2 separate regions of the Homo sapiens genome follow, and region 2 is linked to region 1. Evidence: fine-mapped expression QTL. A gene starts in region 1. The other region holds a variant in brackets. All regions are shown on one strand. Distances are from middle to middle.

Evidence for each region. PIP is the estimated chance that this variant, and not a neighbour inherited with it, causes the effect.
Region 2: its variant is the best candidate, but not a certain one, in a credible set for the expression of SMYD3 in blood mononuclear cells (TOPMed, PIP 0.60).

What each region holds. Positions count from the first base shown.
Region 1 is chr1:246,505,544-246,508,294 of GRCh38, reverse strand. SMYD3 (SET and MYND domain containing 3) reads left to right here and starts at 1,016. Exons shown (of 12, transcript NM_001167740.2): 1 at 1,016-1,241. The coding sequence starts at 1,078. RefSeq lists silencers at 157-389, 879-1,058, 1,329-1,378 and enhancers at 1,064-1,564, 1,565-2,065.
Region 2 is chr1:245,813,542-245,816,574 of GRCh38, reverse strand. The region is part of intron 10 of SMYD3 (SET and MYND domain containing 3); the gene reads left to right. Among named protein-coding and RNA genes, the nearest start is that of SMYD3-AS1, 290 kb to the left of the region's middle. RefSeq lists an enhancer at 1-357. The variant TGTGC/C (reference allele first, on the strand shown) is at 1,709.

The DNA of each region.
Region 1 (2,751 bases):
GACCATCCTGGCTAACACGGTGAAACCTCGTCTCTACTAAAAATACAAAAATTAGCCGGGCGTGGTGGCAGGCGCCTGTAGTCCCAGCTACTCAAGAGGCTGAGGCAGGAGAATCGCTTGAACCCGGGAGGCAGAGGTTGCAGTGAGCCAATATCGTACCACTGCATTCCAGCCTGGGCGAGAATGAGACTCCGTCTCAAAAAACAAAACAAAACAAAACAAACCCCAAAAACAAAAAAGAAAATTAAGCTGGGTGTGGTGGCTCACACCTGTAATTCCAGCAATTCGAGAGGTCGAGGCAGGAGGTTCAGGTTCACTTGAGGCCAGGAGTTTGCGACTAGCCTGGGCGACATAGGTAGACTGTCTCTGGAGGAAAGTAAAAAGCATTAGCCAGGCATGGTGGCGTGAGCCTATAGTCCCATCTAGTCAGGAGGCCCAGGCGGGAGGATTGCACATGCCTGTAGTCCCAGCTACTATGGAGGCTGAGGCAGGAGAATCGCTTGAACCCGGAGGTCAGAGGTTGCAGTGAGCCGAGATCTCGCCACTGCACTCCAGCCTGGGCGACAGAGCAAGACTCCGTCCTAAAACAAAAAAAAGTTACAGTGCAAAGTACTAGTTGTGATGTCATGATGCCTGCAACTTTGAAATAGTTTAACGACAATACGTGTATACATAGCTACAGGTGGGGAGAGAGTGACGAGCAGAAATGGCAAAGTGCTAGGTTGTCTGATTTAGGCGGAGGTATATAGGTGTTCACTGCACTGTTTTCAACTGTTCCGTATGCGTTAAAATGATCGTAATACAATGTTAGAGGGAGAAAAAAAACCCCGCCTGTCTTCTGCGCAGTCGCCATGGGCACGAGCCGCACGCGGAGCCTTACGACCACCTTCAGGTCCCACACACTCCACTCCAGCCGTCCCTCCAGACTCCATCTGCGCATGCTCTTGCCCCACCGCGCCCGCCCCGCCCCTCGGGCGTACGTGTGCGCGCAGGGCGCAGGCGCGCGGGTCCCGGCAGCCCGTGAGACGCCCGCTGCTGGACGCGGGTAGCCGTCTGAGGTGCCGGAGCTGCGGGAGGATGGAGCCGCTGAAGGTGGAAAAGTTCGCAACCGCCAAGAGGGGAAACGGGCTGCGCGCCGTGACCCCGCTGCGCCCCGGAGAGCTACTCTTCCGCTCGGATCCCTTGGCGTACACGGTGTGCAAGGGGAGTCGTGGCGTCGTCTGCGACCGCTGCCTTCTCGGGTGCGTAAGGAGCGCCCTCGCCTACCTGAGTCGCGAGCTGTGTGGGGTGCTGGGGAGGGGGGGGCGTCGGGCGGCCGGCAGCCGCGGGACTCCTGCTGGATGGGGCTGCACAGGCAGCTTGGCGGTGCTGCCCCTGACGCGCGTGTGCCCGGGGGCGGGTCGCTGCTGACAGGCCCCGCCCGGACACCCCCCTAGGTTGCCGCAGCGGGGCTGGGAGGGGGCCCAGGCTCAGCCACTGCCCCCCAACCTGGGCTGCGGTGGAAATGGGAAAGCCATTGGGCAGACTTGAGGGGGAAGCGTTGTGCCGGGGATAATTTTGCTGGGAGACGAAAAGTCTGTGTGCTGGACAGTCTTCCTTGGTGCGGCTGTGGAAATCACACGTGGCGGGCGTGGGGCTGGGTGGGAGCTGGGATGAGTATAAATCAGGCTCCCCTGCAGAGGCCCCGCCGGTAAAGCATCAGGCTTGCAGCAGGTGGAAGAATCTTGATGTCTACGGTGCACCTCTGTGGTCTGGGTTGTGTGTGGCCTGGGGATACGAAGAGGAACGGGACCTCCTCAAAGAGCTGATCAAGTGAGAGAGAGAATTACAGTGTACCAGAAGGGCTGAAATAGAGGGGCAATTAATGTGCTGTGGGAGCATCAGACACGGGTCCCCCGTGTGCTGTGCCATTTAATGGCTGTGCAGGCATGTCTAACTCTTAACCACCATTCTAGATGCAGGGATTCACGTGAAGGTGTTTTGGAAGCCTGGACGCGCTGTGCCGGTGTAAAGTGCTATGTGAAAGCAATTTATGGAAATGTGTAACATACATGAATAATAGGAACTGCATTCAGTCAACAAATATTATTGAGCTTCTGTGTGCGAGGAAGAAGAGTTCTATTTTGAGATGAGTGCGATGATTTTGTGCATGGCCGCTTTTCAGACCTGCCAGTCTGAGATTTAGGTGGGTGGAGGTGGGACGGTAAGTGCAAAACTCGTATCTGTAATTTGACCATTGTTCTTACTTTGTTCTCATTTGATTCATAATTCAGGAATATGACTTTGCATTTTAGAGCTACCAAATAATAATTTTGTCTGTTGCTTTCTGAAGTAATGATAACAGCGAAAACATCTGTTCGGGAGAGAGCAGCATCTTGAAGTTTTTGTAAACTGTGTGGTTGAAAACAATTCGTTCCTTTCAAGATAGTTCTTGGAACAGAAAAGTTTTGGAATGAATAAATGGTGACAAATTGGCAATTGAATCATTAGAGCTGAAGTTGAGTCTTGTGACACACGGAATTGTGCATTTCCAAAATAAGCTACACAAACCCTTTGTGGGTGGGATGCTTGTTGATTTACCATACTATTTCATTAGTCTCATTCATTTTTCCTGTTTGCAGTAACTGGGGATTTAAGCAAAAAAGGAATTTAATGAAAGAGTTTTGGGGGAGTTCTCAGTGTTGCTTTAAAGTCTGCCAAGACTTGACTGGGCATCGGCTGAACCAAGTTAGGATTGCACTGCAAAAGTAG
Region 2 (3,033 bases), 690 kb after region 1:
CTGGAGCTGTTCCTATTCGGCCATCTTGGCTCCTCTTTTTTTTTTTTTTTTTTTTTTACATAGATGAAGGGGACCTCTCATAATAGATGGCACCTTGAGTTGGGTTGTAGCTGGCTTTTGCAGTTGCTTAGATGAGTATTGCATTGTTCCAGTCGTCCTATTCTGAAATGTGTCTGAGAATCCTGTTTTAGAGCCAAGCTCCATTCTAGCAAACAGTAGTGCAAGCCCCACTCCTTGGCCTGATTGATACAGTAATGGCACTGTCCACCCCCTAGCCACCCCGGGAGTACTCTCTGTGGGGAGTTTGCTGCTGCCGTCTAAACTGAAATGGACTTGATTTTCTCTTCTGAGTAGATGCTCAGCTGTAATCCATTGGGAGAAAATTCTTGATTTCTTGGGATATTTAGGAAGGCTAGCGACAGGTAGGAGCTTCTTTATTTATTATGCTTTTCTCTAGAAGCTTCATTGAATACATTATCTTCTGCCCCACACCCCAGGGCTTTGACCAAAATATCCTTGAGATACTGTGGCCCATATTCGGTCACAGAGGTGCACTGTTCTTTTGAAAGAATGGCATGCCGCAACTTACCTACTCACCTACAGAAGGTGAGTGCTGCAAGGCAGTCCCAGTAGGCACTTGGAGTGGAGCTTTGATGAATCCGAAGGATCATGGGCTTTGGAATCACAAGACCCAGGTCCAAGGCCTGATCTCTGCTTCTTACCAGCAGGCTGTGAAGGCTGTGAAACACTTCAAAGGCCCGTAATTTCTCAGTTTGTAAAAACAGCGATTTTCATTTCTGTCTCTTAGGGGTTGATTCAGTGAGACAGTGGCTGTGGAAAAACTTTATAGACTGTAAAGTGTTAAAGACATATCCTTTGTCTCTGTTCTTATCTAAGAATGATGTTTTAATGCTTTTGAGCAGGACACAGAGAGGTGCTACAGGGACAGGGTTGCTTCTACCACCAGCCATCTGGCTATGTTGATAACTGGGATCTGTGTACTTCTTGACCTGTGATGCTCAAGTCTTAATATGCATCAGAGTCACTTGGGGGCTAGGCCCCATGTCTCTAAAATCCCCTTGGTTGATCTGGGATCCATGTGTCATTAGCTCCCCAGCTATTCTGATGGAGGTTACCCATAAGCTCCACTTTGAGAAAAACTAGAGCGTACAGCTTGGACTAGATGACCATGGAGATTGGGATGGAAGGAAAAGCATGGTAGGGTCATGTCTGTGTGCACCCCTGAATGAGAGGCAAGGACTCCTTCGTGTTGAGTTAACCAACAGCTCTTCTGGGCTCTGCCACTATCACGTTCCATTTGTTAACAGTTGCTTCCTGTGTGTGTTTGTGTTTTTTTCTGGTTGGGATGTTTGGCCTCTTTTAGTTGTGAGAAACAATGCTGGGGCCATGAGTGTAAAAGCATCTTCTGTTTTATTGTTGGTAGCAATAGTTGCCTGGCTTGACTGAAAGTCATTTTCCTTGGAGGTTGTACCTAAAGATTTAGCGGATGGATCAAGACCATTGTCCTGCTCTGGCTTTCTGATATCACCTCACCTCATGGTGTCTGTGGGCTTAGTTTACCCTTCATTTATTTTGAGCACCAATGGACAGCTGTCTTTGTTTTGTGTGTTTTGTGAGGAAGATGTCTTGGGAGCCTTCAGTGAAGATAGAGTGTGTGTGTGTGCATGCGTGTGTGCGTGCGTGTGTG[TGTGC/C]TTGCGTGTGTGTGCGTGCATGTGTGTGCGTGTGTGCGTGCGTGTGTGTGTGTGCATGGTGGGATAAGGGATAAGGTCATTTGAGAGGATCTGGAAGCCAAGGGAAACAGGTCTGCTGGGAATTCCAAAATTCTGTCTAGTAGAAGATCTTAAAGTTTATTCCTCATCGGAGCTCTTAGCAGAGCCGGCACAAGCTTAAGTGACCTTGAAGCCTTTAGAAAGAGCAGCTTCTCCGCAATGCCAGTCACATGGCACAGAAGATCAAGATGTTGTTTAAATAAAATCTTGCAGCAGCATCCATTTCACAGGTCCCTGGGGCCGCGTGTAGTCAGTACTAGAAGGGCAAGACTTTAAAACAAGTATGTGGTGTAACAGTAGCATTCTTTTTATTTTATTTATTTATTTTTATTGTTTATTTTTTCGTTTTTATTTTTTTTTTGCCCCCAGTTGAAGAAGACCAGGAAAGAATCTTCTTTTAAAAAACTGAGCTCTATCTGTCCTGATTCCTGGTGCTGCTTCAGGTATCTACCTTAATTTTCTTATATTCCTATGAAGACAGTGGTTTGGATAATTGGAGGTAGCTATACACTGAAATTATTAAATTGTTTACCTTCAAAACAGGAGTAGACCAGAAATGCAGGTCCTTGTCCTCAGAACTGCAGTTCACATCATATTCAGTAATTAATTTAATAGTCACGTTTTCCTCCCAGGCTAGACAGGAAGGGCACTAACTTTGACTTAGGATCCCTTTTGTAGCTCCCACATTATGTGAGGATATCAATTTGCCTTCTGTTTATTTTTCTTTATTATAAAAATAAATTTATTATAAAAACTTTATTATAAAATTTTGCTGTCATTTAAAAATATACGGAAAAGGTGAAACAATGAAGAAATCTACAATCACCTAAAAGCAACTACAATGAATATTTTAGCTGATCTCATGCCAGTGATTCATCTGTATATATATATATATATATATATATATATATATATATATATATAGGGCTCCATGAATTAACCTAAATGACAGAGCAGGTTAGGTGCTTAATATTCTGAGGCCATCTAAACTCAACATCTTGCCTTTCTCTTGAGGGCAGCTCCTCCACTAGTCCCTTTTCTTCATGGTTTCAGAGACTTTCCCAGCCTGCCAGTCTTCATTTGGAGGCTTTCTATGGAGCTTTGTGAAATCACAGTAAACCCTTTGACATGCAGCGCTGTTGCCCACCTAGTCTTCAGCCTTGCTGTAAAGGTGAAGTAGATTAGTTAGACAGGGTTTTGCCCTTCTGACTCCTTGTTGATTATCTCTTTTTAGATAATTACT